Linked DNA regions of Homo sapiens: region 2 is linked to region 1. Evidence: fine-mapped QTL for protein levels in blood plasma. A gene starts in region 1. The other region holds a variant in brackets. All regions are shown on one strand. Distances are between the middles of the regions.

Region 1 (5,379 bases):
TTGTTATATACGATAGCATAACTAAACTAAAACATTAAAGATAGGGGAGAAAAAAATTATATTAACTGGATAGAATTAAAATAAGATGTTACAGAATGTTTAATGACTAGAAATACAATGATAATGTCCAATGAATAAAAATATTTTACAAAACAACATGAATTTTGAAAAAAAATGTGCTGGTAATGAATATATTAAAACTGGGCTGATGTAAATGAGAATGATATTAGATAAAATGTCATCTATTGGTGTTTGGATGAAGAGTGATGCTATTATATCTCTATATTTCATATATTTCTCTATATAACTATATTTATACATTTCTCTATATTTATATATTTCTCTATATAACTGTATTCTGTATTTCTCTATATAACTTCAACTTCTTGAAGTTATTGGTTACTTTATGATAAAGCATGGGTTTATTATTGTAGTATTAGTAGTATTATTAGGTCAGAAGGAACTTGGTAGGTTATCATATTTTATATGAAAAAACACAGTATGTTGTAAACCTTGCAATGAGTAAAAATACAATGAGAACTAAATCTTCCTTCAATGATAGGGCGCTCACTAGAGGTAAATATGTGTATTTTAAATACTCACAAAGATACATACATAAACAGGATTTTAATTAAAAAATTATATTCCCAAAGTTACTCAATAAATCCTACATACACATCAATTGTTTTTAAAAGGAGAATATTATAATTGTTATATATAAAATAACAGTAGAATTCATGATACCATTTGACTCAGTGGGGAAAGTGGCATGTGTTTTGGTGTTTACAAAGAACGGAGCACTTTGACACTTGTAGATAAAGAAAAGCTCCCTCAGGCCAAAGAAACTGTCAGCAAAAGCAAGGAGATGTAGCACAGTTAGGAAAACAGTGATTCGGCTAAATTTGCTGGGTTTCCTGGCTGGTTAAGACAAGAGAGCTATGGAAACATAACTTAGGGCCCTAGAAAGCTTTCACTGAGAGGCTCAGGAGTTTAGATAATATTTATTTGGTATTTAACCGAAGAACTACTGAAAATATGGAGAACACCTTTAGAAATATTACACTAGAGGCTGGGCTGCCTGTAACACCAGCACTTTGGGAGGCCACGGCGGATGGATCACAAGGTCAGGAGTTCAAGACCAGCCTGGCCAACACAGTGAAACCCCGTCTCTACTAAAAATACAAAAATTAGCCGGGTGTGGTGACGCATACCTGTAATCCCAGCTACCCGGGAGGCTGAGGCAGGAGAATTGCTTGCACCAGGACCCGGGAGACGGAGGTTGCAATGAGCCGAGATTGCGCCACTGCCCTCCAGCCTGAGCTACAGAACTAGACTCCGTCTCAAAAAAAAAAAAAAAAAAAAAAAAAAGTTACTACCAATCCTCTTTCTGGACTTTTTTTAAAAAGGCAAGAACATTCCAGAAAAGTTTAGCTAGAAATTACCTAGTACTAGTACCTACATCTCGCAAATGACAACGAAAATCAAGAAGAAATACCAAGAGAGATATTGGTAGAGAAGGAAGGGGAAAATATCCTAAACCTTAATTTAAAACAAACAAAATAAATAAATAAAAATTTTAAGAAAGTATTTGCAATGCACTACAGCGCGACTGACAGTCCTTTGGTTAAATCTGTCAGTAAAGACGACTTAGACCTCCTCTGTGCTGGCAGTTGTTCTACATGCTGGGATTCAAGTGTGTTCAGAAAACATCCAAGAACTTTTGAAGGGCACCAGTAGGAAGAAATCGACACACAATTTCACAGATGCCACTCTGGGGACCAAATACTCCCATTTTGTTTTTCTTCTTTCTCTTTGAAGCTTCCCGGGCTACACCCCAAATGAAGCACCTCTTCATTGAGGATGTTCGAATCCTAAGTCCCCAAATCCCTGCTGATGGAGAGCCACCCGCTCCTACTTCAGGAGGCACGTGCACCTGAGCTTTGGAGGGGTCGGAACCCGTACCCAGCTCGACACTCTTCTTAACAACGCCCAAACCCGAGGGTTGCTTTGCTGACAACACTCATTTAATGTAAACACTGTGCAAAAGCAAAGCATTGCACAAATGAGAATTATTATGGCAAGTTTACGATATAGACGTACAATTGTTACCAAGAATGAACTGGACCACACAGCCCTCCCGACCAGAGCCCAGCTGAGGGACCAGACTATCCGCATCGGGAGAAACCAGCCCAGCGCGAGTTCGACGACAGGAGAGTGCTTGGGGGAGGGGCGGACGGTGTAAAATAATGGGTGTGTGTCGCAAAGGGGGTTACCACAGCCAAGGCAAAGAGACCCACACTGAGTGAGCCGCGTGGGCGGGGGGGACGGCGCGCGGTGGGGGGAGCGGCCGTGGGAGCCGCTCAGGAGACGGGTGGCCTCGGCGGCTCCGCTCCGGACTGTCGCCCGCTTCCCGGTCACCGCAGCGCCCGCAGCCCCCGCCGGGGGGCGCCTCACCTGGTAGCTGCCGGCGGCCTCCTGCAGCGGCGCCGTGCGGTGCGTCCTGTGCTCGGGGCCGGCGTCGCACACCCAGCACAGCGCCGCCTCGTCCTCCTCGCAGAAGCGGCTCAGGTCCTCGCCGTGCCGCGCGCATCGCCGCGCCCCGGGCCCCGCGCCCAACCCCAGCCGCCGCACGCTCTCCACCAGGCCCGCCAGCTGCCGGTTGGGGCGAAAGCCCGAGGGCCGGAAGGGGCCCCGGCACTGCGGACAGGCGTAGACGCCGCCCTGCGCGCCGTCCGACTTCTCGCAGAACTCGGAGATGCACCTGAGGCAGAAGCTGTGGCCGCAGTCCACGCTGACCGGCTCCTGCAGGAAATCCAGGCACACCGGGCACCGCGCATCCTCGCGCAGCCGCTCCCCGGGCGGCGCCCAGGCCATGACCCGCCTCCCGGAGGGCTGCGCTCCCGGCCGCCCGCACCGTCTCCCCTCGCGGTCTGCACAGGGGGAGGAGCCCACGCCCCAGGAAAGCAGGCGCCGACGGGTGGTGTCCGCTGGCTTCAGTTCAAGAGCTCAGACGAGCCACACCCGGTGAAAAGCCACCACTCAGGCGCTCCCTATGTCGGGGATAAAATTAACGTTGTGGTTCCCCGCCCCCGTCACACACACACCCAGGAAACTGGGCATTTCTAACTGGAATCCCTCCTCATATGCTATTTTCACTGGCAGTAGATCTGGAGAATTGCTAAATTCCCTCCTTCCTTCCATCTTTGTTTGTTTGTTTTTGTTTTTGTTTTTTTGAGAGGGAGTCTCGCTCTGTCGCCCAGGCTGGAGTGCGGTGGCGCGATCTCGGCTCACTGCAGCCTCCGCCTCCCGGGTTCAAGCGATTCTCCTGCCTCAGCCTCGCAAGCAGCAGGGATTACAGGCGCCCGCCACCATGCCCGGCTAATTTTTGTATTTTTAGTAGAGACGGGGTTTCACCATTTTGGTCAGCCTGGTCTTGAACTCGTGACCTCAGGTGATCTGCCCGCCTCGACCTCCCAGAGTGCTGGGATTACAGGCGCGAGCCACCGCGCCCAGCCTCCATCATCATTATATAGATTTAGTGCAGATTTCTGGGGTACCAGTGCAGTTTTGTTACATGGAGACACTGCATAAAGTCTAGGCTTTAGCGCAGGCATCGCTGTGATAGCGTAAATTGTTCTCATTAGGTGATCTCTCATCCCTCGCCCGCCTTCCACCCTCCGAGCCCCTTCCATTGTTACTGAGCTACTCCATGGTCCTCTCATGCCATAATCGTTTCTTAAAAGGCTTTCCCCCTTTATATGGCATAATCAATTTTTAAATGTTTTTTTCAAACTTCATTTTTTTCTCTTGCACTAATTACCTCTTGATAAAGAAATGAGACACCGCCTGACACGGGAAGATGCCTGCATAGGTGTGTGTAACTATAGGTTTACAGCCCAGCCAAAAATAATTCTAAATATTTAAATAAATATCTGGCCTAGTTCAATGAGGATCCTACAAGGAATACACACATGTTGTAGGATTGTTGCAAAGCCAGTCTTGGAGATGACAAAGCTATAGAGATACTCATCAGAGGAATAATTCAAGCTTAGCCTCTCAGTGGTGTACCTGTCAGATGGGGGAGGCTGAGACAGGAGCAAAATGATTTGACAGAGTATGTTACTTCATCCAGTGGAAGGCTGAATCAGGATAAAGTACATTAAAGTCTCTAATGTCGTCCAGAAAGTCGACAAGTCTGAGGCAGTGTCTGCATCTGTGCAAAATAACTTTAGTATGGTCGAGTTTGAAGTGATGGTGGGGTGTACCTGTGGCAAATCAATCTGTCCCTGAGCACACATTGTGTCTGTTTGTAGCCAGGAGTCTCAGACATTGCACCGGGTACTGAAAATACACATGTTAAGGAAAAGAGGTGGGACCCCATTTCTCCAGGAGCCTTAAGATCAACTAGAAGAGGTGGATATGAAATCATGCAAACATATAATTACAAACCAATAACTGCAAGGAAGGTCGCTCACCAGTCCTGCAGGAATATAACAGAGGACTCTGAATGAGGCTGCAGGGTCGGGGGCAGACACCTGAGGTCTCTGAGCAAACCTCTGATAGGTGAACACAAGCTGGCCAGCGGGAAGGGGGGCTCCGCAAGGCCGTGCCCCCAGAAGCCATGAAAGGTACAAGGTAAACTTCAGCAGGTGGGAGCAAGACATACCCAGATGACAGTGAGAAGCCAGGCAGGCTGGCAAGCTGGGCCAGAATATGGTGGCAGCAGATAAGGCTGCAGCAAGAGGCGGGGCCAGATGACTCAGGTCCTTGGGGATCCTCTGGGGTTTGTGGGTCTTCATTATAAGGACAAACTCTTGGGCTGGATCTCTGGCGACAGGCAGAGCAGAGGATCTTGAGGCCTAAAGGTTAAGTGCGCAATTAAAGCGAATAGATTCTTGGAGAACACACATGGATCTGTATTAGCAAAACACGAAAGATGTGGCATTAGAGAAAAAAGCTAAAGAGCAGAAGGCTTAGCAAAGAAAAACAGACTCTGGCTCCGGACTAAGGGCTGTGGCACTTGCTGAGAAGCTTGAGGCAAGCTGTGCCGCGTTTCTGCCCTGCATTTCTTCTGACGTGCAGTGAAGAGGTGTTAGTGTCATTCATATAAGGCCTTTCAGAGTATTAAACGAGCTAATAGATAGTAGACACTTAATATAGGTCCTGGCATGTTGGAAATACACACACACACACACACACACACACACACACACGTATATATATTGAGACAGGGTCTTGCTCTGCTGCCCAGGCTATAGTGTAGTGCCACAACCTGACTCACTGTAGCCTCTACCTTTCAGGCTCAAGTGATCTTCTCACCTCAGCCTCCCAAGTACCTGCGACTACAGGTGCCCGCCACCACGCCCAGCTAATTTTTGT
Region 2 (5,373 bases), 18 kb before region 1:
CAAATATGACCTTAAATATTTACCATAACACAGTGAGGCCAGTATAATTGTTCCATGTATAGGAACCATAACAAGCAGCTAAAAGAGAGAGAGAAGTGTTGTTTGAGGTCTTTTTTCTTTTTTGAGATGGAGTCTCGCACTGGGCTGGAGTACAGTGGTGAGATATTGGCTCACTGCAACCTCCGCCTCCAGGGTTCAAGCAATTCTCCTGTCTCCACCTCCAGAATAGCTGGGATTACAGGCTCCTGCCACCATGCCCAGCTAATTTTTCTATTTTTTTTTTTTTTTTAGTAGAGACAGGGTTTCACCATGTTGGCCAGGCTGGTCTTGAACTCCTGAGCTTGTGATCCACCCGCCTCAGCCTCCCAAAGTGCTGGGATTACAGGCGTGAGCCACTGCACCCAGCCTTAAGGTCTTATAACTAGTAAATATCTGCATTAAAGAACGAGTTGAATGAAAATTCTGATAAATTCCTACTTAAAGTGTATCCAAAGAAAACGGAAAAAGTCTAGGAGTTAGTGATATTAGATTCAGAAGAATGAGCTTTGTAATTCTTAAAAATTAGTCTCAGAATAGAAAGGATTTTAAAAGTAATTGAGTAAAGTCATAGGAAATGTGACCATATAAAGGAATGGCTCTAAATGTATTAATCCAGAAGGAAGCAACAGGTTAAACAGTAAGAGGTAAGAAACAAAAAATAAGGAACAAGAGAGAGAGAGTGACAGGGAGAGAGAGACAGAGCGGGGAAGGAGAGAATGAGAAGGAAAATCAGGAAAACGAGGAGAAACAGAATTAAGGAGGTGATACTGGAATAGTATCAGACCATTCTGAATCAATTTAAGAATTGCCATGTCTAATTCTTATATGGAAGATTTGAAATACAAGGATATTGAAAGGAATAACAAATTATAATGAATGCATAGAAATCCTTATGTAATCCAAGGTCATTAATTTGAAGGAAGACATCAAGAAAATGTGATCTAGAAATAGAGGTTGAGATTGCTCCATTTACAAAATTATTATGCTCTATAATCTTCCCATATGCAAATATTTCATATTCCCTCTTTTGTCCCATGGACATATTTCACAGCAACAACGAATCAAGTGCTGACCTAAATGGGGTATCTGTTAAAACTTAGTATATTGATATCCTTCACCCCACTCCAGGAACGTTCGCTACGCTAGGACTGCATCTTGGGAACAGAATTTT[A/G]GAGATGATCATCTCTTACATCAGAAGCAGGATCTAAATGATCCCTGGATGCCCAATTTCCTGACCCTGCTATTGTTGTGGGTGGCAAGATAAGAGGAGTTGCATCACAGATGAAAAAGTAAGGCCGAAGAAGACCAGAGAAGAGTTGGTTGAATGTGTAGATATAAGATCCATCTGTGACATTGTAGAATGAAATTTCACCGGCTTCATAGTCCAAGAAAATCCCAATGCAGCGAGGACTTTCCAGTTGGAGAAGAGGCACTGATGGGGAGGCAAGGACCATGTACTCATTCCCTTTCAGCAGCCACAGGGCCCAGACCCCATTCTCAGGAGATGGCGTGGTTTCCCCCTTTCTTGGCAGTGTGTCTTGACAGACCCCTAAACCCCACTCTGCTCCTTCTCCCACCAGAACCTCCCAGTAATGCCTCCCTGATGAGAAGCTCTGCAAACCCAGGATGCAGGGCCATGTGTCAAATCGCTCAGGGTTGTTGGGGACATCCCTCCATGGTTCTCCATCCTGCACACTGCGCAGGTCGGCGGTCAAGAGCAGACTCGGGTGCGCCGTGGCGGGATCCAGCTTTACATCCACTGCGGAAAGAATGTGGTGGACCAGGTGAAAGGAAAGAAAGGACTGGTAGAAACTTAGGAAACCACTGAAAAGAATAGTCCCACAGTTCCTCACTTTTCTCTCTCTATTAACTCCTAGAGAAAACAAATCAGTATTTCACCTTACAGGTGAAATCTTCTTTATTACTTTATTATTCTTATTCTTTATAACTTTCTGGTATATTCCACTGTTACCTCTGCGTAACCCAGAACTCTTTAACTTTCCCAAAAAAAAACAACTATTGATGACGACAAACCAAGTGAATTATCATTTAGTTTCCTTTCATTTACATCTAAAGCATTTGTGTGTGTGTGTGTGCGTGAGAGAGAGAGAGAGAGACAGAGAGACGGGGTCTTGCTATGTTGCCCAGGCTGGAGTGCAGAGCTATTCATGGGCATAGCCGTGGTACACTACAGCCTCAAACTCCTGGACTCAAGCAATCCTCCCGTGTCTGCCTCCCCAGCAGCTGGGACTACAGGTGCACACCACCATGTCTGGCTTACATCCAAAGCATTTGAGTGCACTTAGGAGGATCTTCTGCATTTAACATAAAATTTATAAACCCCTTAGGAATTTTTTTCTTAAAAATCTATAGAATTTTATTAATATTAAATCCACTACTTCCAAAGTTATATTACTGTGGTAGGCGGAATTCTAAGATGGACCCCATGACCTTCACACCCTGGTGTTAGCCTCATGAGTATGTTACACTATATGACAAGAGAGAGATTATCAAGGTGCGTCTAATCAAATCCCACAAGTCCTGTAAAATCAGAAAGTTTTCTCTGGCTATTGGGTTGGTGGCAGCAGGAAAGGTCAATAAGATGTGGATTTGATATCTCTTTGCTGGCTTTGAAAATGGAAAGGTCACATGAAGAGACAAACGAGTGACCTCTAGAGCTGAGAGTGATCTCCAGAGCTGAGAATAGCCCCCAACCAACAGCCAGCAAGAAAACAGGAATCTCAGTACCGCATTTGCACAGAATTGTATTATGCCAACAACCTGAATAAGGTTGGAGGTAAGGTTCTTCCCCCGACCTACACAGAAGCCTGGCCTGGCCTGGCCAACACCCATATTTGGGCCTTGAGAAAACCTAAGCAGAGGAGCCAGCTGATCCCACTTGGATGTCTGGTCTTCAGAACCATGAGCTACTAAATGGTATGGCTTTAAGCACATAAGCTTGTAGTTATGCGTTATATAACAATAAAAAATACTGATACTCTGAAGTCCCAGTGAGATTGATGAGACATTTGACCCATATACATAATAAATAAATACATCTAGATATGAAACCTCAGTGAAGGGGGGATGTAAAATATTCAGTGCATTTCCTTATTAGCATTGCTTATAAGTAGTAAGTTAATAAATAATATGGTTTGGATGTGTATCGCCTCCCGGTCTCATGTTGAAATGTGATTCCCAATGTTGAAGGTGGGGCCTAGTGGGGGGTGCTGGATCATGGGTGCAGATCCCCCATGAATGACTTAGTGCCATCCCACTGGTGATAAGTGAGTTCTTTATCCGTTCATGCAAGAGCTGGTCGTTTAAGAGGAACCTGGGGCCTCCCCACTTCACTGCTTCCCTCTTGCCATGTGATACGCTGGCTCCTCCTTTGCTTTCCACCATGACTGTAGGTGTCCTGAGGCCTCACCAGAAACAGGTGCCAGCACCATGACTCCTGTACAGCCTACAGAACCATGAGCCAAAATAAAGCATATTTCCTTATATTAATAAATTACCCAGCCTCAGGTATTTCTTTATAGCAATGCAAAATCAGACTAACATGTTAATATAGTTTGATTTTTAATATCAGAACAAATACTGTTTCTACTGCTACTGCTACTGCTACTGCTACTACCACTACCACTATACTTATTTGCCTTTAAACACTTACAGTGAACTACTTTTTTTTTTGAAACGGAGTCTCGCTCTGTTGCCCAGTCTGGAGTGCAGTGGTGCAATCACAGCTCACTGCAGCCTCCACCTCTCAGACTCAAGCCATCCCCTGACCTCAGCCCTCTGAGTAGCTGGGAAGGCACACACCACCATGCCCAGCTAGTTTTCTGTATTTTTTTGTAGAGAAGGGGTTTTGCCATGTTGCCCAGGCTGGTCTCGAACTCCTGGGTTCAAGCAATCCATCCGCCTCAGCCTCCCAAAATGTTGGGATTACAGGCGTGAGCTGCCACGCCCGGTCTAGTGAATTTTTATTGATACCCAACCTGAGTGGTCACGTAACTGCGCATTGCATTATTTTTATTATGTAACCACCCTGAGGGTCACCATTGTCATCCCTACATTACACAAGAGTAGATTCAGAGTCAAAGAGTTTATGTGGTCTTCCCAAACTCTAGAGGTAAATAACAGAGATTGAAAGGTAGGTCTCCATGGATTGTGCATTTAACACAATCTAACAGGTCATGTATTCCCAAGCCATTCCTCTTCCGGCACAGTGGTCTGCTTCATTTCTAACAAAAGAGATCTGTGAAATGGCTTTTGATATGGTCTGTATCCCATTCCTCTCCCTACCCCTTCTCTCCTAAACTCAATTCTTCATCATGATGTGACCATACCCCAACCAAACTGCGCATGTCCATCTTCCCAGGGACCTCCGTGTTGATGAATGGTTACTTGTCAGTTTGTCTTTTTTTTAAGATGGAGTTTTGCTCTTGTTGCCCAGGCTGGAGTTCAATGGCATGATCTTGGCTTACTGCAACCCCCATCTCCCGGGTTCAAGTGATTCTCCTGCCTCAGCCTCCCGAGTAGCTGGGATTACAGGCATGCACCACCACGCCTGGCTAATTTTGTATTTTTAGTAGAGACAAGGTTTCCTCAGGTTGATCAGGCTGGTCTCGAACTCCTGACCTCAGGTGATCTGCCCGCCTCGGCCTCCCAAAGTGCAGGGATTTACAGGCGTGAGCCACCGCGCCCGGCCCAGAGTTCATCTTCAATGATTTTTCTGTATCTCTCAACACTGAGAATCTACTTGTGCTGGAAAATCTCCCTTTTCCAAAGGTAACACTCATCCATGTTTCCCTTCCCTCACTGCTCACTACTCCTTGATCCTCTTTGCTGTTCTCTTCTCCTCCACCACCACCACTGGAGAAACCTATAGTCCCAAGACTTGGACTTCTTCTCTCTCTCTCACCTCACTCCCTATCTACCCGGGTGCTGGCTGGTTCATTGCTTTGATAAAATTCCATTCATATGCTGACTGATTCCCAATGCATGTGCTTAGCTTTGAACTTTACCCTGAAACTCCCTATTGTACATTCATCTGCCCACTTGATAGCAACATTTGAATATTTAGCACTCATCGCAACATCCACATATCCAAAACCCTGTGCCCTTCTTCTGCTTCAACTGTCGCTTTCCTCATCAATATAAGTGGCAATCACATTTTGCCAGTTCGCAAGATCCAAAACCTTGGAATCATTCATGGCTCTTCCTGTTTATAGCACATCATATATAATCCAACAGCAAATCTTAACAGCTCTGCCTTCAGTATATAACAAAAATCTGTCCATCTTGCGGCACCTTCCGTAATAACATCTATTC

Evidence for each region. PIP is the posterior inclusion probability: the model's chance that the variant is causal. Protein levels are from antibody-based Olink assays in UK Biobank. Linkage for the fine-mapping came from a reference panel and not from the study's own genotypes, which makes the PIPs less certain.
Region 2: its variant is fine-mapped to the plasma level of the TRIM58 protein (UK Biobank, PIP above 0.99). The variant lies in the coding sequence of TRIM58. If it changes the protein, the assay may bind it differently, which can mimic a change of level.

The regions. Positions count from the first base shown.
Region 1 is chr1:247,854,742-247,860,120 of GRCh38, reverse strand. TRIM58 (tripartite motif containing 58) reads right to left here and starts at 2,934. Exons shown (of 6, transcript NM_015431.4): 1 at 2,455-2,934. The coding sequence starts at 2,874. RefSeq lists a cis regulatory region at 4,457-5,021.
Region 2 is chr1:247,872,325-247,877,697 of GRCh38, reverse strand. TRIM58 (tripartite motif containing 58) reads right to left here. Exons shown (of 6, transcript NM_015431.4): 6 at 1-1,798. The coding sequence ends at 1,209. Among named protein-coding and RNA genes, the nearest start is that of TRIM58, 18 kb to the right of the region's middle. The variant A/G (reference allele first, on the strand shown) is at 1,211.